Homo sapiens: one gene and its partners. The protein of the gene in region 2 interacts with the protein of the main gene of each other region in a pairwise test. Each region holds a gene or a part of one and is shown on either strand. Other genes may lie near its edges.

Evidence for each region. The genes of interacting proteins can lie anywhere in the genome.
Region 1: the proteins of NEK6 (region 2) and FOXJ3 interact in binary tests that used the Homo sapiens proteins (3 or more experiments, as listed by UniProt).
Region 3: the proteins of NEK6 (region 2) and CFP interact in binary tests that used the Homo sapiens proteins (3 or more experiments, as listed by UniProt).

What each region holds. Positions count from the first base shown.
Region 1 is NC_000001.11:42,332,236-42,339,402, forward strand, and holds the start of FOXJ3 (forkhead box protein J3), read right to left. Parts: upstream 3,001-7,167; 5' UTR 2,824-3,000; intron 2,721-2,823; exon of another isoform or gene 1-2,720.
Region 2 is NC_000009.12:124,260,949-124,268,046, reverse strand, and holds part of NEK6 (serine/threonine-protein kinase Nek6), read right to left. Parts: intron 6,954-7,098; exon of another isoform or gene 6,879-6,953; intron 6,580-6,878; exon of another isoform or gene 6,464-6,579; intron 5,132-6,463; exon of another isoform or gene 5,102-5,131; coding exon of another isoform or gene 5,029-5,101; intron 5,023-5,028; exon of another isoform or gene 4,547-5,022; intron 1-4,546. UniProt on the Homo sapiens protein: Protein kinase which plays an important role in mitotic cell cycle progression. Required for chromosome segregation at metaphase-anaphase transition, robust mitotic spindle formation and cytokinesis.
Region 3 is NC_000023.11:47,626,931-47,634,103, forward strand, and holds the start of CFP (properdin precursor), read right to left. Parts: upstream 3,001-7,173; 5' UTR 2,915-3,000; coding exon 2,839-2,914; intron 2,745-2,838; coding exon 2,594-2,744; intron 1,348-2,593; coding exon 1,172-1,347; intron 712-1,171; coding exon 541-711; intron 403-540; coding exon 211-402; intron 17-210; coding exon 1-16. UniProt on the Homo sapiens protein: A positive regulator of the alternate pathway (AP) of complement. It binds to and stabilizes the C3- and C5-convertase enzyme complexes. Inhibits CFI-CFH mediated degradation of Complement C3 beta chain (C3b).

The sequences.
Region 1 (7,167 bases), on a different chromosome or scaffold from region 2:
ACTACCCTCCCAACACACATCTACTGATGTGTTTTACTAGCATCTATATCCCTGGTCAGTGCAAAATCTACCTTTCATCTAACCGTTCATTGTATATGGGAATAATTACATGCATAAGGTTAAGCAACTTGCCCAAAGTCCCTTCTGATTTTAATACCTTATTATGAAGATTTAATGAATTAAACAAACGTAGGCGCTTAGAATACCTGTCATACAGTAAGTAAATGTTAGCTATTATTTTATTCCTACAACCACTATCTTATATCAGACCCTCATCAGCTTATTCCTAAAATTCTCCATAAGCACTCTAATCAGTCTCTCCACTCCCAGGACACTCAGCTGAAACAAAAACCTTCCTCAGGAACAAGATGCATCATCTTACTCTCATTCTTTAGAACCCATTGTGGTACCCTATCAAACTAAACCCTCTATCCTTGAAAGATCCTCCATCAATACCCCCTCACCAATCCTAAACTCATTTATTATTATTCACCAACACAGATGATCTGACAGTCAAGCTCCTTGATATCATTTGTACATTGCCACTTCTCTCGCTTTGCACAGGCCCCTTCACTCTCCTGAAATACACCTCTTTCCCTTTGGAAATTTGTATCTTTCTCAAATGTCCCTTACACTTTTGACCTTGGTTGTACTGTTATCCCAAGGAGAAGTTTGATGCAGTTTGATAATTCTGAATGATGTACATGTTTCCCGAACAGAAAAAGAAACTCTGTTCTTTCGATATAAGTTGAAGCTTTCCAAGAGACCACGTATCTTATTCGTCTCTTCATACAGACTTCACACATAGATAACTCGGTACTTTACAGAAGTACACAAATGCTGACTTACCAAAAAAAAACAAAAAGCCTCAGTATGTATCAGAACAACATTCTCCATTTTCCACTGCCCCACCCATACTTAGCATAATGAAAAAATATAATCTAAAATCTATATTTAAATATTTTCATTCTACATAGAAGGAAAGGGAATATACGAACTGTACCAGATAAAAGGAAAAAAATGTCAAAAATATACTCAAAGAATGTACAATGTGAAAAAGTGAGAATGCAGGCCACTTTGGAATCTAGTAAGTGACTTTGAAACATTAAGTTTTTTTATTTTACCCAAACTAATGAACAAAAAAGAGCCAAAATAAACACGTTCTAGCCTCATCCAAAAAAAATCTAATGAAAGCATGAGAAACTTCCCAGTTTTGTCCTCGGCAGCACAAAACCAAGAAGATTCACCTCAATTCTGAGACACAAAAGCAAAAAGAGAAATCCTCCTATTTATCTAAGAAACTAAAAAACTTAATCACGTCTATATAATATATACCACTCAGAAAAAGAGAGGAGTTACTGCTTTTCTATAAATATTTGCTAGGGACCAGGAGGAATAGGCTTCTCTCACTGTTATTGCGGGAACAATCTGTGGTCTCAAAACAGCAAAACAGAAGATGGAAACCCTAATCTGGAAGAGACATTAAGAAAAAAACTACTCAAACCATGTTTCAAACCAGTTTCAAAAAAAGAGTGTGCAATGGGTACTCAACAGAGTAAGAGGAAAAGTGAAGTAAAAGAGCTTCTACAAAATAAGTGACTAGGTGAAACTAGTGCTGCCTTGTGAGAAAAAGAGCTATGCATATAACGCTCCTATGACATCACGCTTTTTCACTGGGAAACAAAATAGAAGGAAGAAAACACACACAAATAAATCTCAGAAAAAGACCAAAAAGGTGCCCACCAATCTCTAACTCCTTCAGGAATTAGAGTGAATGGCTCTAACTCATTCAGGAATCCAACCAGGGACAACACAGACGTGGAATGCACCAACACGGAATAGTAAAACCTTTGCTAACCAGACACACAAAAAGTAAAACAGAGAAATGAAAACTATACACCTGAATGCATCGGTAGCAAGCGCTTATTCTCTATAATTAAGCAACAGAGAAAAGAATAAGAGCAGCTAATGGAAGAGGAAAAAAGATGTTAATGAAACTAAGCCCTGTTATGTCCCCTACTGGCCTCAATTTCAGAGTACAACTCTCGATTCTTCATCTAACCAACAGCCGGCCTCGGCAAAGCAAACTGACCCTAACACCTTCCACGCCACCCGGAGGAAATCACAGAGGAAAAACCATCCCGTTAACCTCCCTCCTCACCAGCTGCAAAAATGGAGCTGGGAGGGGGGGCGGGAGACACTCTACCACGTGGGCAGGATGCAACACACACAGGACAGCAACACGTCCGCATGGAACGGCTGCCTTTGCCCTAATCCCAGCAAAGGACACAGACACAGGATGGGCGGGAACGCAAGCACCCTCGCATGGGCCTCCTCTCCCCAAAGGGCCACTCCAAGGCGTGAGGTACAGCCCGCCCTGCCGGCAGAAAAGCGCCCCCAAGCTTAAAGGGAAGAAGCCGCAGAGTGCCGGGGTCGGGGGCTAGCCCAGGCCAAGGGACAGGTCATGGAGGGAAGGAGACGGTCGCTGCCCTCGGACTAGGCGCCCCCGGGATCCACGTCTGGTTCCCCGGTGCCCCGCCTGGGGGAGGGGCGGGAGACGCGAAGCCGCTGCTTCCCAGCTGAGGGGCAGCAGCAGCTGAGAAGCGCCGCGGGGGAGGGAAGGACCCAGCCCTCGGCGTCCGCCAGGCCCCAGCCGGGGCCCAGGCCCCCTGCCCCACCCGCCGCCCACCCCGCAACGCGGCTGCGGCTGGAAGAGAGAGGGCGTCTCGCGGAGGACAGCCCCTGCCTCCGTCCCGGGAGATGCCACAGCCCCGCCTCCTCGCCCGCCGCCCAGGCCCGGCCGCCCTGGCGGGGGGCACTTACCTCAGGCTGCGCAGGCCGGGACGGCCCGGCCGAGCCCCCGGCCGCTCCGTGCGTCTCCGCCCCCCCGGGAAAGGTCCCAACGGTGCCTACTGCGAGCGGTCGAGGCCCCGAGCAGCCCCGAGAGCGGCGGCGGCAGCAAGAGCAGCCAACATCCGGGGCCGCGCACCCGGAACTACTTCCCGACCCGCATCCCCCGCCCGCCCTCGCCGCCACCGCCTCCTGCGGCGTCGCTGCGCCGCCGGCCCGGCGTCAGCGGCGTCAAGTCCCTGCGCGGTCACGGTCGCTTCGACGCACGCAGGATCCCTCCGCTGGGACAAGTAGTGCCCTGAGACTCCCGAGGCTCTGCATCGGCGCAGCCGGTGTCATCTAGCGGCCGGCAGTTCCGAGCGACTTGGGGTCCTTGTGCCTCGGAGTGGCGTCTGGGAGCAAAGGCGGCGGAGGCAACCCCGCAGTTGAGGACAGTAGGGATCGGTGGCTTTGGACCCTGCCCACGGATACCTGGGGCCCCATGCCCCGAAGGAATGGTGCCTTCTGCCCTCCCCCGCCCCCCAACATCCGCCACCTCACCGAAGCGCCCGGCACCTTAGCCTCCTCTCCAGGAAAGCGGACGCCTTTTCCGACCTGGCACACCGCGGATTCCGGGACCCCCAACAAAGGCGCCTTGGACCTTCAGGACACCCCTCTTTTCAGAACTTCATGAGTCCCAGGTGCTAGACTCATGTCTGCGGAGGCCTTTCCCGTGCCTGGTCTTTCTTTCTTTCTTAAAGGAGTTGGACCTCTAAAGGCCCTTCTAATTCTCAAGGTAGCTACCCAGGTTATGGTACTACTATCAGTAGGTGGAGCGTTTAGAAGGGTAGTTTGGTCGACGAGTGAACTTTGGAATTTACTTCTACGTCAGTCTTCACTGATTCTTTCTCTAAACTATTAGCACTGATAATCTGCCCTATAATTTCACACTTAATTACATTCCAGTGTAGTATTTGCTGTTGCTTCATTCGCGTTAGTCACATATTCCCCTGCAGCGCCAAACACGCTTTTGAACTCACAATGGGTGGCTCAATATTTGGAGACTTAGATATTTGTTAGATGAATACTAGGCTGATTGGATGAGAGGAAAAGGAGAGGCATGAGTGAATTGGCCCTGGGTACTTTTTTGACATAGTCTCAAAGGGTTCAGATAAAGACCTCCAGCAGATCTGAGCACACAATTCCTTCAGTAAACATTGAACACCTGCCGTTTGGTCAAGCATTTCTAGGCACTGGAGATTCAAAGTATTCACATATTCCTTTTCTTTATAAGACTAGCAAGATTCTGAAGATTCATGTACTCATTCACTCAACAAATATTTGCCAATCACTACTAAGGTTGCCAGACACTATTTTAGTGCTTGGGATGTATCAGTAAACAGAAGAGAGAGAGAAAACAAATACCCTTCCCTGTTGGAGCTTTCATTCTAATATAAGGAGAAAGATGATAAATGTAAGAGAATTATGTAATATGTTAGAAGGCATATGGGGAAAAAAAAATACACCAGGGTAAGGGGTATGAGGAAAACTGGAGGAAGGGGGTTTGCAATTTTTTTTTAAGAGGGAATCCTGCTCTCCCGCCCAGGCTGGAGTGCAGTGGCGCGATCTCAGCTCACTGCAACTCCCGGGTTCAAGTGATTCTCCTGCCTCAGCCTCCTAAGTAGCTGGGATTACAGGCGCGCGCTACCACACCCGGCTAATTTTTGTATTTTTAGTAGAGATGGGGTTTCACCATGTTGGCCAGGCTGGTCTCAAACTCCCGAACTCAAAAGTGATCCGCGCTCTTCGGCCTCCCAAAGTGCTGGCATTACAGGCCTGAGCCACCGCGCCTGGCCTGCAATTTTAAATAGAGCCGTCAGCATGGGCCTCATTTATAAAATGACTTTAAATCGGAGACCTGAAAGAGCTGAGGGAGTCAGCCATGCAGTTGTCTGGGGAAGAGTGTCCCAGGCAGAAGGAACAGCTAGCTGGTGGAAAGGCCTGGAGACAAAAGCCTCGGGAAGTGTTAAAAATAATGAGAAGGCCAGGACGGTTGGAGCCGTGAGCAAATGGGAGCCTAATGAGGAGATAAGATCAGAGAGAGGGGTCTCAAGTAGGGAGCTGTAGGAATCTTGGCTGAAACAGAACCACTGCTGGGCTTTGAACAGAGGAGTGATAGGATCTGACTCGTGCTTTCAAAAGATCACTCTGGCCGCCGTGCTAAGAGCAGAACTAAGAGGACAATGGTGGAAGCCAGAGGCTCCATTACCCAGGTACAGAATGATGGCTTGAACTAGATAGTAGCAATGAGTAAGATAAATAAGATGCAGTCTCAGCCGGGCACAGTGGCGCTTGACTGTAATCCCAGTTATTAAGGAGGCTGAGGCAGGAGGATAGGATCACTTGAGCCCAGGAGTTCAAGTGCAGCCCGGGCAACACAGCAAGCCCCCATCTCTAAAAAATAAATAACGTACAGTCTGTCTATGGTCTCCCAACACTTAGGCAGAGGCGGAAGATTGCGTGAGCACAAGAGTTCAAGACTAGCCTGGGCAACATAAGGAGACTGTCTCTACAAAAATAAAAAAATTAGCCGGCAGGGTGGTGTGCATCCTTGGTCCCAGCTATGTGGGAGGCTGAGATGGGAGGATTGGGCCCAAGAGGTCAAGGCTGCAGTGAGTTGTGACTGCGCCACTGCACTCCAGCCTGGGTAACAGAGTGAGACCCTGTCTTTAAAAAAAAAAAAAGAGAGAGAAACTAGACTTAGCTCCAAGTCTGGAGCTTTTGGGGTTTTCTTCCTTTATAAAAATTTTTTAACTTTATAGAAATGGGATCTCACTATGTTGCTCAGACTTGTCTTGAACTCCTGTTTAGCACCACCTCTTACAAGTGTTGGGCAGCTCCGCTTCTCTCACTTGTCTGGAATTCTAAGGCACTTCCCTGAAGTGCTCATCCTGAGCTAATATGGGATAGGGCTGGAGAGAGAACAGAGGTGGATAGCTGCCAGAATGAGGTGGGAAGGTGGGGATCAGCAGCCTTTGGGAAGGAAAGAAGTATGAGTCCCAGGGTATTAAAAGGTGGAGGGGCAATAAAATTTATTACATATGGGATTCATACTAAATGAGTAGATTTTAGCTTCTCTTGCCACAATAAACAAAAAAAATGGATAACTGTGTGAGATGATGGCTCTGTTAATTTGCTTCACTATAGTGACTTTTTGACTATCCCATAACATCATGTTGTGTACCTTAAATATATAGATTTAAAAAAGTGGAGGAGTATCTCTCCTCAAAAAAAAAAAAAAGAAAAAAAGAAAGAAAGAAAGAATAAAGCAGGCCGGGCATGGTGGCTAACGCCTGTAATCCCAGCACTTTGGGAGGCCCAGGTGGGAGGATCACTTGAGCTCATGAGGTTGAGACCAACCTGGGCAACAAAGTGACACCCTGACTCTAAGAAAAATAAAAAATAAATAAAAAGCTAGGATGGCCAAAGCAGCAGGGGGAATTCTGGAACATTGTGAGGAGGAAAAGCTTAAAGCCTAGATTGAGAAGGCAGACCTAGATTCAAGTCTAATATTCCATAGCTTACTTCCTTTGTGCCTACATCAGTTATTTAGTTTCTCTTAGCCTCTGTTTCCCTGCCTATAATATGGGAACAATAATCATAGCTATGTAGCAAAAGAGACCATGCACAGGCTGCCAAAAATAAAGGTCCCCAAGACAGCTGTTATTATTTATAAGGTCCCAGTGTCAGCACAGAAAAGAGTATAGTAGTTGACTGTCTTGGGAGACGGGAGTGGACTAGAAGGGAGGGTGCAGAGCAGGATAGCCTTCAAAGAGGAGATATTATCCAGCTCAAGGGACAGATCCTTAAAAGACACAGATTGCCCAGAGGAATGAAGTAGTGGTTTTATTGTTTTGTATTGTTTGCAATCTTGTCCTAGCTTCATCTGAATTCTGAATTCTCTGAAAGGAACACAGCCCAGAGCTGGGCTGCAATAGCCCTACAAAAACCTTGATTGGACACTGGCAGTGCTTCAACAGCTGAGTGTTCAACACTTCACATGACCTAGACGCTAAGATAAATGAGCCTTCACCTGATCCTTTTCTCCCTCTGTATTTATTGTAAGAGGAAATCAGAAAATGAGAAATGAATTTAAAATGAGCCAAGACTTGCAAGAGGGAGAGGGAAAAACACGAGAGAGCCCCTTCTATTATTCCTAGCCCGGGAAGAGCCTTCCAGATTTCCTGGGTATCTTTATCTAATATTTTATAATTCTTGAATTAGGTTTTTTAAAAGGCTATATGTAGGCCATCTGAGAGGTCTCAGCACTACTGACTG
Region 2 (7,098 bases):
AGCATCCAGAGACTTCGCACAGCAGACAGCATCTTCCAAACCATCTCTCCTGTCCCTGAATGGCACTAAATACTTCTACAGATCACAGCCCGTTTGGGAGTTTGGAAAGTGGGGCCATGATGTGTCTCACCTACAGGTGATCAATGTCTGAAGACACAGAACACCATAAAGGTCTGTGCGAGTGAAAGGTGTTAGCTCAGAGTACAAGTATTTTCTCTGCATGTTTCCCCAGGAAGACGGGGCAGGGACCTCATCTGATTCCTGTGTGTTTCCCCAGGGGCCAAGAAGGCATGTGGTGCTCAGCCGTCCCTTGCTGAATGGCATCATGAAACCTGGTCACAGGGCTTCCTCATTTCAGGGTCCCAGTGGCCAGCTCAGGGGCGGCCCAGCACCTGGTGTGCCCATCACCCCTTGGAGAAAACCACAGAATGTTTTCCAAATGCCACGCTGTCACCACTAGGCTGGCTCCAAGAGCAGGCGGCTCCCACACTTGTCCCAGCGTCTGCACAGACAAAAACCCAGTCCTCATTTCCTCTTGGGTTAGGTAAGGAGGCTGGCATTTAAAACACACACAAAAGGCCACTACATTCCCGGAGGAGACGAACAAAGGAAATGTACACACACTGACTCAGTCCGGCACGCCGTGCCCACTCGAGGTCCTGTTGTAACTGAATCCAGGCGGACTCGACCGGACCTGCCAAGCCCAGGGGCGGACTCCCTCTCCTTTGCTCTCTTCTGTGTGCCATGTGGTGCCCAGTGATCCTGCCATCTGGGCACCCACGCTGGTGGCCCGCCAAGGCCACATCAGCTGCAGAATCTTTCCTCTTTCAATGCTGGGTTTCCTACTTTCTAAGATGGGGTGTAATCTGGGGTCCTGCTCATTTGCCAAAAAGTCATGTCTGTGCTCAGAGGTGGCTTGGTTAGCCTTTCCTCAAAGCAACCCCAAAAGATATGCCCTCTAAACAAAGTGTGTGCTTGGTAGAAAATGCAGCTTTAAGACACAGCACTGACCCATTCCAACCCAAAGCCCTCCTATGCAGACATGTGGGAGCTGCCTCGGCAGGGAAGGGGCATAGGAAGGAGAGCCTGTAACTCTGGGAGGTAGAGCCCTTCTGGGCTTAGGTTCCTCCTCATTGGAATAATTCGAGGATGAGCATTTCTCTAAGAAACCTCTTCTCCCAGGGAAGGGCCAGCTCAGCTCAATACAGCCCTGCACAGCCCACTGAGGGGAGTGAGGAACGTTTGCTAACAGATTCGTTCACTCCATATAAACATTCTCCAAGGATCCGGCCGCGTGCCTACTTAAAACTTCCCATTCACTCAACAAATATTAATTGAGCTCCTCCTATGTGTCAGGCACAATGCTGGCCATGGAGAACACTGTTGTGGTCCACAGACCAAGTCCCATCCCCTTCTAGAGTGCATGTTCAGTCTGTGAGGCAGGTTACAACTATGCGATGACAAGACGGATGCTCAGGGGCCCTGGCATGGTACCTGGGTGCACACTGTTCCTTCCAGCTGCCTGGGGGCCCTCACACAGGTCCTGAGCTGGGCAGCTGGTCACTTCCTGAGGGCACATCCTGGTCACTTCCGGAGGGCAGCCTCTGTCCTCCAATTTTCAGCTCAGACCCCCATGCTGTGGGTGTCCTCACAGCACTCAGGCTGATGCTCGTCAAGCACCACAGATCCTGGACTCTCTGGGTCTCTGTTTCCTCATCTATAAAATGGGCAGAACGATACCCACATCACGGCATCACTGGGAGGATGAAGTGAGTTCCCTCAGGTTAAGGGTTAGATTAGAACATGGCCCACAGTAAGTGCCTGGTAAGGCCATCTACCGACAGGAGCAAAGGCCAAAGAAGCAGGAGGAAGTTCCACAGCCCCACCTCTCACCCACCGGCCCCACCTGCCTCTCCACCTTGGGGTCTACCTGCCCTTCACCCCAGCCCTCTCAGCCCTCTGGCAAACCCCACGTCTCCCTCCAGGTGGGTTCAAACACCCCTCACTGCCGGAAGCTCTCCTACTTCCCCAGAGACTACATCCCAAAAAATGCCACCTGCAAATTGATCAAGAGCACCTAAGAAGGGGTTGTGACAGCCTCTGTCCCCACCAGGTGGTGAGAGGCCAATGGGTGGGGCCATTAGAGGGTCTTCGTGTGGGCTCCCAGCACAATGCCTGACCCAGGACTTCCATCCGGACATACGTCATGAAAGAATGAGATAACGTGCCACACACCAGCCAGCACAAGCATCTCTGGTTAGCAGAAGGGAGTCCACTTAGCCCATAGGACAATGGACGGTCTGTGTTTTTGCATCAAAACTTTTCACCCGCAGTCCAGGCCCAGGTGTCACAACCAGAGCCTTGACCTGAAAGCTGGGACAGTGATCTGATTTAGGCTACAGAGCAGCAGGCTGCATGTGGGACCTGAGGCTGGTCATGATGTCTCTCTGGGCCTCAGTGTCGCCATCTGTAAAAGGAGAGGTATTTTTTTTTTTAAAGCAAGACAAACTTGTCTTTTTTTTTTTGAGACGGAGTCTCACTCTATTGCCCAAGCTGGAGTGCAGTGGCGCCATCTCGGCTCACTGCAACCTCCGCCTCCTGGGTTCAAGTGATTCTCCTGCCTCAGCCTCCTGAGTAGCTGGGATTACAGGCACACGCCACCACGCCCAGCTAATTTTTGTATTTTTAGTAGAGATGGGGTTTCACCATATTGGTCAGGCTGGTCTCAAACTCCTGAGCTCGTGATCCGCCTGCCTCGGCCTCCCAAAGTGCTGGGATTACAGGCGTGAGCCACCGTGCCTGGCCAAAACTTTTATGTTTAACATTTTTCTCAGATATATTTAACCACTTTAAAGCAAACCGCTGGATGGGATGTATTACAATCACAATGTTGTGCAACCACCACCTTCATCCGGTTCCAAAACGTCTGCGTCACCCCAATAAAAACCCATGTCCCTTAATCAGTCGCTCCCCAGTCTCCCCTCCCCAAAGGCCCTGGAAACCACCAATCTGCTTTAGGTCTATGTGGATTTATCTATTCTGGCTACTTCATGTATCTTAAAATGACTCCTATGCAAAACCTCCTTATGTAAAACAGGCAACAGGCAGGTGGCTTTGCCCCCTTCGCCTCCCCGGAGCTCACGTTCCTCATCCTTAGTGGCCTTTCAGGGAAAGCTCTGATGCCAGGTGCCATTCTTTGCAGAACTCTTTTTTTTTTTTTTTTTTTTTTTTTGATACAGAGTCTCGCTCTGTTGCCTAGGCTGGAGTGCAGTGGCACAATCTCAGCTCACTGCAGCCTCTGTCTCCCAGGTTCAAGTGATTCTCACGCCTCAGGCTCCTCAGGCTCCCGAGTAGCTGGGATTAAAGGTGTCCACCACCACGCCCAGCTAATTTTTCGTATTTTTAGTAGCGATGGGGTTTTGCCATGTTGGCTGGGCTGGTCTCAAACTCCTGACCTCAAGTGATCTGCCCGCCTCGGCCTCTCAAAGTGCTGGGATTATAGGCATGAGCCTGTCCTGGTCTTTGTGATTTTTACACTACCTTTTTTGTCACATGGTACCTCTTAGCAGAATTCTAATCCTAAAGTTGAATTTCTAAGGCAGATCACCCCCAAGGGTGCCTGAGGATCACGGGGCTGGTGCCTGGTGTTACTGGCCCGTTTTCCGGATGAGGGAGTAGAGGCTGGGCCCCTGTGAAGCCCTCCTTGCATGAGGTGACTACAGAGGAGTGGACCTCCAGAGCCTGGTGACACCCTCTCCCACCACACAGACTACAGCTGGGTCTAGGGTGTGACGAGCTGGCAGAGAAGCCGCCCCAGAGCGATAGCCACTTCCGGAGGACAAGGATCTCTCCACCGGCTCAGGAAAACAAGCCAGTTTAAGGGAAACCCAAATGGCTTTGGGGGGCGGGGGCATAAAATGTGCAGGACTCCCTCAGGCCTTGCCATGCAGACCTTTTCAGGAGGACTGCCAGGGGAAGACGGCTGCTCACTTCTGCCCCACGGCCAGGCCTGTGACAGCCGCTCCTGTCAGCGCAGTCCTCTGCGGGGCCGACGCTGTGTAAATAATTAACAAAACATCTGCCTTGCTTCATAACACACCGTGGCTGACACAGCTCTCAGGGCCTTCAGAGACCCTCCAATGCCACGCCGAGGACTTATGGCCTCGCTTTGTGGGGACAGGTGGGAACGAGAGCAGATACTGACAGGCAAACATTTTCCTGAGGCGCCACAGGGCCACCCTGGTGCTTAAATCCTGCCTCTTTGCAAACTGCGCTGTCTCCTTCCCTTCCGTTTTGGGAGCCATGATCCTAGGAAGGTGCTCTGGTGGAATCCAGAGGGGTCCCCGGCACCTGCTTCTGGCCTTGTTTAGGGCCTCAATGCAGGGGCACTGGAGACACTCTGGGCCACGGACCAAGGGTCCCGGCTGAGTGACCCTGGGTGGGTCCTTGGTCATTAAAGATTTTCCATGTCTCTCATGTAATCTTGGGGAATGAGCATCAAGCACTTAAAAGGCGCTGAGCATCTGAAATGCATTATTTCACTTACTTCCTCCCCCGAAGCTTCTGAGGTCATAATATTATCCCTGTTTTCCAGATGATGACGCTGAGGCTCAGTGGGCGACGTGCTCATGAGAGGCAGGTCTGGGACTCCAGCCTCATTCACTCCATCGGGTGCCCAGGCTCAGGCTCTCAATGCGGCTGTGGGGGAGCGCCTTGCTCCCTCTGAGCCTCAGGTTCTGTTCCGTGAAACAGATGGGTGGCAAGAGTCCTTCAGACTCCAAAAGTCCACAATAAATAAACCCAGTGCTCGTCTCAACCCCAGTGGGTGTGTGCGAAGCTCTCTGGATTGGGAGCCCAGTGAATTCCTCATCAGCAGCTTGATTCATTAGAGCTGAAGGTCATGTGCATCCATCCTTTTGCAGGTGTCTTCCCAACAAGCCCAAGTTTCAAAGACGTTGAGGACAAGGAACAAGAGAGGGCAGGCATTCGAGAAGGGGCCTGTGGACTAATTCCCATACTGCCACTCACCTGCAGTAAGAACGCGCCTCTGGAACATGGAGAAGTTCTTCTTAAAGGGATCTCTGTTCACCCAGGTCAACATGACCCACCCCGCAAGCCTCAGCCTAATTCTGAAGCATGAGGGTTAAACAATTCGGGGAAAATGCAGGCACTGCAGGCTCTGAATGGCAACTTCCCTCCCCCTTCCCCTGTCCAAATTCCTTCACACTCTATGGAATTCCTACATAAAGCCCCTTTTTTCTTAGAATTCTATGAGGTCACCACCATGCAGATGTCTAAGAGAAAGAAAGAACGGCTCCGTGCAGATCCAGGCCACTGCAACTGAATGCATTTCAGATCTCGGCCACCCCATCTTTCAATTCCCATGGCCCCCCCACTCGCCCAGCCACAGCTACAGCGGTGGTGGCCAGTCAGGTCTGGTGGGGTGCTGTGATCCTGCCCTTGCTGGAGGCCAAGAAGGCCTGGCTAGAAGACCTGTGCCTTTACCACCAGATCACCCGAGAAGTCATCTGTGGAAAAATCCAGAATTGGAGACAATGGCGCAGCCATGTATGTGGGGGTCTGTTTCCACACAAGCAAGTCCTGTTAGAGGGACACATGTCAAAATGCTAGCTCCCACTCCAAGTTCAAGTTCCCAAAGTTAACATCACAGGAAATTACACCACCAACTGATTTGCCCCAATGTCGGCTCCTCTGTCTGGAAGTCGAGTCTGAGAAGGCCATTGGTTTAGTTCAGCTTTGGCCAAAGGAAGGGACCAGCTCAGACAGGAATGAGTGAAAGTGCTGGCCTGATTTTTTTTCTTTTTAAACTAACATTTTCCCCAAAAGTTATCTTGCCATTACCCAAGAGTCATAAGTGAAAAGACAGCCAAATACCAAAAAGCCACTGAGGCCCTCAACAGTGCCTGCTCATTTCAAAGCCATTTCACGGACAGCCAGGGGGTGCCTGGGCCACCGCAGACCACCCCTCACTCCAAGAGCACTCCTGCTCCCCAGAGCTCCATGTTCCATGTAAAGTTCCACGGCATGTGCACACCACTTCCTAAGAATGATGTCAGCAAAAAAAAAAAAAGATAAAAATGTGGAAAAAAGGACTATTTTTACCTCCCCAAATCACAGGCCAGACGGGAGAAAAATCCATCAATGCCAGAAATGTGGCTGAGCCTTCGCACAAGATCTATTATTTCACACCTTAAATTAACGCATCTCAAAGCAATTTGCAAATGTTCGTCAATTTGCAGAACATACATGGAAGGGAGAGAAATACCTTTTCCTTTCAACACCGAAGGACACTGGCAGGGGGGCACAACATGGCCCAAACCACACAGGTCCTCACACACAACATTCATTTCAAGCACATGTAGTAGAAGCCGTGATCGAAATGGAAATGAGCAGGGAAAAAAGGCAGGCAGGGGACTTAAATGACAAGTGACAAGAAGCCTACCTACAAGCGATCTCGCTGTCAGATATTTAGGACTGTGAGTCAGGCCCGTGAAGGTGACATCAGGGGGCCAGAACACCGGACTCTTCCTGCGAACAGTGTCCCAGCCTCATCTCCACACAAGCCTGGCAGTGCCTGCCCGTATTTAATCTTGGATGATTCACCAGGTCCCTCCACTCTCCACCCTCCAACTCCCTTGCTTGGTCTAGCCTGAGAAGAGGAAGGAAATATTCTTCTCCTTTTGACAATTGTTTTGACACTTCCCTTATGAAAAGTATCTGGGGCACTTAAAGAAAAGAAAAAATGTGAACAGCAGCCCTTTCTCTCCAGTAGCTCTGGCCCTGGGCGAGGAAGGCCAGCAGTGCCTTCTGGAAGACCTCTCCCAGGTCTCGGGCAACCCAGCCCTGCAGGAACCTAGCCTGTCTTAACCTACTTGGCTTTGCAGCATGCAACAGGAGCAAAGCACGACAAAGGCAGCCAGATGTGGTTTAAGGTGAGGAACTCTGGAATCAGAGACATGGGTTCGAATCCCGACTCTGCCATTTGTGGGTTTATGACCCTGCCCAAGTTACTTAACCTCCCTCTCTGTAAGATCAGGAAAACGACACTGAACCTCAGCACAGGCCAGGCATCCAGCC
Region 3 (7,173 bases), on a different chromosome or scaffold from region 2:
CCCCAGCCCCCAGCCACTGTTGGAGGAGGAAAGGGAGTGAGGAGAAAGGCCTCCTCAATCCTTCCTCTCAGCCCCTAGACCCTTGAAGCAGACTGTCCCCAAATGAAGGGCTGCATGGTCACATGGCCTAGGAACTCTAGAAATGGCAGAGCATCTCTGCCCTCAATCAAGAGCCCCACCAGCAACATCAGCAGCCTCATCCTGGTGTACCTGGGCAGGGTGGCAGGCCGGTGCACCTCCGCTGCTCGTAGGCTAGCCCCGGGCAGGGCTTCCCAGGAGGTTTCTGGGAGGGCTCAGGTGCAGAACACTTGCGGCTTCGTGTCTCCTTAGGTTCGTGGGGTCCACCGTGGCAGGAGGCTGAGCAGGGGGTCCAGGGGCCCCAGGTGGCCCAGGCCCCGTGTGCTGTGGTGGGGTGGGAGGTGGAGGGATGCAGGTGTGGTCATGCATGCTAAAGTCCTCTCAGCCTGGCAGTTCCCTGCTGTAACCCCGCAGACCCACGCTGGGTGCACCCATCAGCATCCTGTGGCTTCCCTCACTCACTGGGGCAGACCTGCTGGGTGTCACAGGCCTCTGATTCCTGTGCCTGTCCTGGGCAGTGGCCCCCACACTTGGGAGCAGGGTGATTACAGGCTCGCCTGCGGGTCCGGGTCCCTTTGGAGCAGGTGACAGAGCAAGGCTCCCAGGGCCCCCAGCCAGACCAGCCGCCCATCTCTGTGGGAGAGAAGAGAGGGTAATGGGATGGAGGTGGGGTGTCATTCAGGGCTCTTTGCTTCCTTGAGTGCCCCACATGAGCTAATCCTGTCCTTATATCCTCTGCCACCATTCTGGGCCCACCATCCCCGCTCACCGGGCCTGCCGCAGCAACCTTCACATGGGTGCCTCCGCTTCCCCTCTCACCCTCACCGTGCACAGTCTGTTCTCCTCCCAACCCCAGTCAGATCACGTTCCTCCTCTGCCCACAGTCCAAATTACTCAGATGAAAAGCCAACGTCCTCTCTGTGGCCCCCAGGCAATGGACCCTCCTCACCTCTCTGACCTCACCTCCCACCACTCTCCTCCTTAGGTCCTTACAAACACTGGGGACGGGCCCACTCTGAGGACCTCTGTACCGATCGTTCCCACCAGTGCTGGGTGACAGGGAGTGCTTGCCCGCCTTGCTCATCCTCCTCACCAGGACAGCACTGCTGGTCCTCACAGGCCTGGAGCTGCCACTCCAGGGTCCCAGGTGCCACCTTTCCAGAGCACTGCCCATTCCAGCCCACACAGCGCCGGTACCGCAGCTGGGAGCCCTCAGAGCACGTCACCGAACAGGGGGCCCATGTGGACCACAGGGACCATCGTGGGGACCTGTGGAGAAGAGCACACACATCCCATCCTGGCATGAGCTAACAAGAATGGCATGTGGGACTCCAGAGTGTGGGCAGACACGAAGGGTTGCTAGGCAAGTGCGTGTGCGATGGATTGATAAGTCCTTACCTTTTAGGGATATTGGGATACTGATGGGAAGCAGTGGATATACAATAAGTGCTTGATAATGTCATTTACCTTCACAATCAGGCATCTGGAGTTACCATTGGAAGGCTGCATGGCCAACACCAGGTCCGCAGTAAGCAAAGGTAAGGACTAGAAACCAAGGGCTGCTGTCAGAAACCCACCAGATCACCACACTACACGGTAGTAGGTAAATAGAAAGTGCTTAATAAACCTGAGCCATCATCCCTATGACCTCAGAGGCCTCCTCAGAAATAACCCCAGATCTATCCCCAACCCACTGCATAGCCCTAGGTATGCTGTTCATGCCAAATAGATGTGATGAACTGTTGACATGACTTGGGGCCCAGAGCTGCCCTCAAAAATCCCCAAGCTCCCCATGCCCACGGTGTATCTGGGATATATAGTAAACAAGTAGAAAACAGGTCTGGCATACGGTAAGGGCTCAATCCATGCAAGCTGGAAATCATGATCAGGAGACTAGAGCTACCCTCAGAAATCCTCAAGCTCATCTCCCAACCCTGCCATGCAGCTGGTATACAGGGAGTGCTCAATGAATGTGAAGTGTCATCATAATTAGGGGCCTAGAGCTGCCCTTTGAATTCCCCAAACTTTCCCGCCCCCACAGTGTGTCCATATACAGTAAGCACTCAATAAACATGAGCTGTCATCAAAATTAGGGAAATACCAAGCTGCACCCCACCTGCAATGCTTCCAGTGTGCAGGAGGTGCTCAATATGTGTGAGCTATGTCAGTGGTTCTCAATCAGGGGTGATTTTGACCCCCAGGGGACATTTGGCAATGTCTGCTGACATGTTTGGTTGTCACAGCTGGTGGGGAGAATTGCTACTGGCATCTAGTGGAAGGCTAGGGGTGTTACAAAACATCCCACAATACACAGGTAAGCAATCCCCTCCCCCAGCCAAGAATTTCCAGCCCCAAATGTCAATAGTAACAAGGTTGAGAAACCCTGAGGTATGGTCACGATCAGGGCCTCAGGGCCACCCTTGGAAGTCCCAGAGAAAGAAAGTGCCCAGTTTTGGGTGACCCCCACAGACAGTCCTTCCCTCCCCCCCATCCCCCACCCCAGGCTCCCCCTAACCTGCAAGGCTGACAGAGCCCACCACTACGTTTCTGGTAGGCAAAGGCAGTGTTGAGACAGCAGTCTTCCACGCTGACACCACCCCCCAGGAGGCCCTTGCACTTGCCGGAGGATTCTTCATACTGGGTGAAGCAGAGCACGGGGTCTGAGCCTGTAACAGGGCCAGGGGATGGGTGGGTGGGGCTCGGTCAGGGATGTGGTGGGCCTGGACACCCCTGGGGCCAGCTGGGCCCTCACCCCCTCACCTGTGGCTGGCAGGGTGAGCAGCAGGAGCAGCGGCGGCAGCAACAATCGAGGGGCCTGCGCTCCCTCTGTGATCATGTTGAGTACTGCCCCCTGCACCTCTACCAGAGAGGAGGTCCCGCTTTATCTGGGTTGATAGGCTCCTGGAATCAGCAGGGAAAGAGGAACCTAGAGGCAGGAGGAACTGGGAGGGCATCCTGCTTTGACCCCACCCTGTCCCCTCTGCCTCCTTCTCTACTCTCCCCTCCCCATTTCCTGTCTTACTCTTGGTCTTGTTCTGTTTGTTACTATATCCCCAGCACCTCGCGCTCCTCCCAGCAACCTCACAGTGTTCAATAGAAGCTCCTAGGACAAATTCTCACCCAGAGGAAATGGAGCATAGGAGCGTGCAGCAACTTCCTAGCCGTGTGACCTTGGGTGAGTCACTTAACACCCCTGAGCCTCAGTTTCCCTATGTGGAAAATGCATAATCTCTAACATAATGACGGGGTCAACCTCGTGGGGGTGTTGAACCAGGGTGAAGTGAGTGTGCGGTGCTCAGTATGTTCCTGCTCGTGGGGGTGGAGGGAGCATCGAGTCAGTTGCTCCACCTTCCACCCTCCCTTAACCTCGGCCCTCCTTTCCTGAGAGGTTCCCTGTGGTCAGCTTGTGGTCGGGGAGGTCAGCACAAGGGAAGTGAGAAAGGGAAGTGGCAGGAGCCTGGGGAGGGATTCAGGAGGGGAATGGGGTCTATCCATTGTTCCATGGGCCCAGCTGGGGACAACACCAGGGTCTGGGGTGATTAGGAGGGAATAAGCTGGGCCATATTCCATCAGAGAACCCTCAGGCAGATAACACCCCCCTTCTGGAGCCTGTTTCCCCTCTGTAAAATGTGCTCACAGACAGCACCTACAACATAGGTAGGGTGTGTTGCAAAGATTGCGAGTTAAGCTTTTGTTTGTTTTGTCGAGATGGAGTCTCACTCCGTCGCCCAGGCTGGCGTGCAGTGTCACGATCTCGGCTCACTGCAACCTCTGCCTCCCGATTTCAACCAATTCTCCTGCCTCAGCCTCCTGAGTAGCTGGGATTACAGCCGTGTACCACCATGTCCAGCTAATTTTTGTATTTTTAGTGGAGACAGGGTTTCACCATGTTGGCCAGGCTGGTCTCGAACTCCTGACCTCAGGTTATCCACCTGCCTTGGCCTCCCAAAGTGCTAGGATTACAGGCGTGAGTCACCGTGCCCGGCCAGGAGTTAAGCTTTTGGAAAGTCTTTAGAACAGTGCCTGGCATATAGTAGGTGCTCTGTGTTTGATAAATTTATTCAACATTTATTGAGCACCTACTGGATGCCAGATGCGGTTCTTAGCATTAGAGCAGAGAATAGGACAGACAAAAATCCTGGCCCTCGAGAAGATGGATAACAAATGTTGCCCCTCCTCACAGAGGCCTTCCCCATACCCTTGTCTGGCATCCCTGTCACTCTCTAGCCCAGTAGCTTCCAAACCTGTTTTTTTGTTTGTTTTGTTTTAAAGAGACAGAGTCTTGCTGTCACCTGGGCTGGAGTGCAGTGGTCTGATCATAGCTCATTGCAGCCTCAAACTCCTGGGCTCAAGTGATTTTCCCACCTTAGCGTCCCCAAGTAGCTGGGACTACAGGCACACACCACCACACAACTAATGTTTTTATTTTCTGTATAGATGGGGTCTCGTTGTGTTGCCCAGGCTGGTCTCAAACTCCTGGCTTCAATATTTTCTCCCAACCTCAGCCTCCCAAAGTGCTGGGATTACAGGCATGAGCCATCACACCAGCCCTTCTTTTTTTTTTATTTTTTTATTTTTTTTTTATAAACCCTAATGAAACTCCAGGGCCCACTTTAAAATTTTTATTTTGCTTTTAATTAACAAAAAGAAGCACAAGAAAGATAGGAAGGCAATGCCTAATTTCCTCTGCTCTCAGGGAGGCAGAGGAATTCTGCAAATTCAAATGTAATAATTTGGTCAGCTGTTAAAACAGAAGTTCTTCAGGAACACTTGTTTTATGGGCAGTAAAGTATGTGTTAATATCTGTATCCATTACAGACATACTCTGTTCTCTGATAACATAAGGCTATCCTTGAAAATGTGCTTTGAACAAAGGAGTCTTATTAAGATTCTACGACTTCAAGACAATCATTGCTGTGTTATCCTGTGAAAACACTCTCCAAGAGACCTGAAACTGGCCAGGCATGGTGGCTCACGCCTGTAATCCCAACACTTTGGGAGATTGAGGCAGGTGGATCACCTGACGTCAGGAGTTCGAGACCAGCCTGGTCAACATGGTGAAACGCCGTCTCTACTAAAAATACAAAAATTAGCCAGGCGTGGTGGCGGATGCCTGTAATCCCAGCTACTTGGGAGGCTGAGGCAGGAGAATCGCTTGAACTCGGGAGGCAGAGGCTCTAGTGAGCTGAGATCGTGCCACTGCACTCCAGCCTGGGCGACAGAGTGAGACTCTGTCCCAAAAAAAAAAAAAAAAAAAAAGAAAGAAACCTGAAATTCTGGCTGGCTTCTTTATTTAACCACCTGTTGCCCTGGTAATAATATTAACAATATTTCCTTTGTTTCTAAACTGTATAAATACTCATAGGATTCCCTGTGGAAGAGGACTGTCAGCACTCTATCTTTTCCCACACGTTTAGGCAATAAAATGACTGCAGATTCCTTAAACAAAGAGTGAGAGTCTTGTCTTATTTAATTATTACATCCCTACCTGCTACTATGTATTTGCCTGCTTCTTGTTATTCTCACTCCCTAAATATCAGTTCCACAAGGGCAGGGATTTTTGTCTGGCTTGTTAACTGCTGGGTCTGCAGGGCATTAGATAGGCACCAGGAAACAGTGGATGCTCAATAAACATCTGCTAAATGAATCAATCAATGAAATAAACAAAACTTTAGAGATTACGATAAAATGCCAGAAGGACAGTCTGAGTTAGAGGTAAAAATGTGGGCATCCCATGGAGGATAAGTAGTATTTCAAGTGTGAAGACCTGGATAAGATGACCTAGAGAGGATGCGTGAGAAGAGAGAAGGGAATCCCAGGGCTTTGCCCTGGGGAACCCCAGCATTTCAAGTTTTAGAGAAGTAGGAGAAGCCAGCCCAGCGGACTGAGCAGGAGGGGCCTGTGGAGGAACAGGAAAAACAGAAGAGGGTTTTTCTCCAGGGCCTGGAACATTCGAGGGTCTGCAGGGCATTAGACCTCTCACACAGTCTCATTTGGTCTGTTATTTTCTCTCTCTCTCTTTTTTTTTTTAAACCTATCTACACAGTTATGTTTTTCTTTTCTTTCTTTTCTTTTCGAGACAGGGTCTGGTTCTGTTACCCAGGCTGGAGTGCAGTGGCGTGATCGCAGACTACAGCCTCAACCTCCTGGGCTCAAACCATCCTCCCACCTCAGCCTCCCGAGTAACTGGGACTACAGGCACACGCCACACCTGGCTAATTTTTTAAACTATTTGGAGAGACAGGGTTTTGCCACATTGCCCAGGCTGGTCTCAAACTCAAACTCCTGGGCTGAAGCGATCCTCCCAACTCAGTGTCCTCAGTAGCTGGGACTACAGGCATGCACCACTATACCTGGGTAATTTTGTTTTTTGTTTTGGTAGCGGCAGGGTCCTTCTATGTTGCCCAGGTTGGTCTCAAACTCAAAATCCTGGCCTCAAGTAGTCCTCCCACATCAGCCTCCCATGTAGCTGGGATTACAGGTGCACAACACTACGTTATGCTAATTTTTTAAATTTTTAGTAGTGACGGGGTCTCACCATGTGGCCCAGGCTGGTCTCAAGCTCCTGGCCTCAAGTGATCCTCCCACCTTGGCCTCCCAAAGTGCTGGGATTACAAGCATGAGCCACCGCACCCAGTCCGGATTTACAGCCTCTACTATATTCTCTTAATCACACAGCCTCTCAGACATTCTGTCACTCATAGTCATTTTCTGTGTCATGGATTCCAGCCTTACTACAGTCTCCTAACAGTTTCACACACACAATCATGTTTAACAGCCTGTCTCATTCAGTCAATATTGCCAATAGTTTCTCTCACCAGTCAGTTCCTTACATACACGTGCAGTCACACAATCTCATGAAACGTTTAGGCACTCATTTGGCCTGTTACTTTCTCACATACACAAATAGTCACTGATTTATAGTCACCACTAACTAGTCTCTCATGAAGTTTCCCACACATGCACAAAAATCACCTCTCCTACCCCTTTCTCACTCAAGCCACTTTTTCACACACCCACGATCCCTGATTACAGCCTCTCCCACAAAGACATTCACACGCATACACAATCACACAGTATCTCAGACACTGTCGT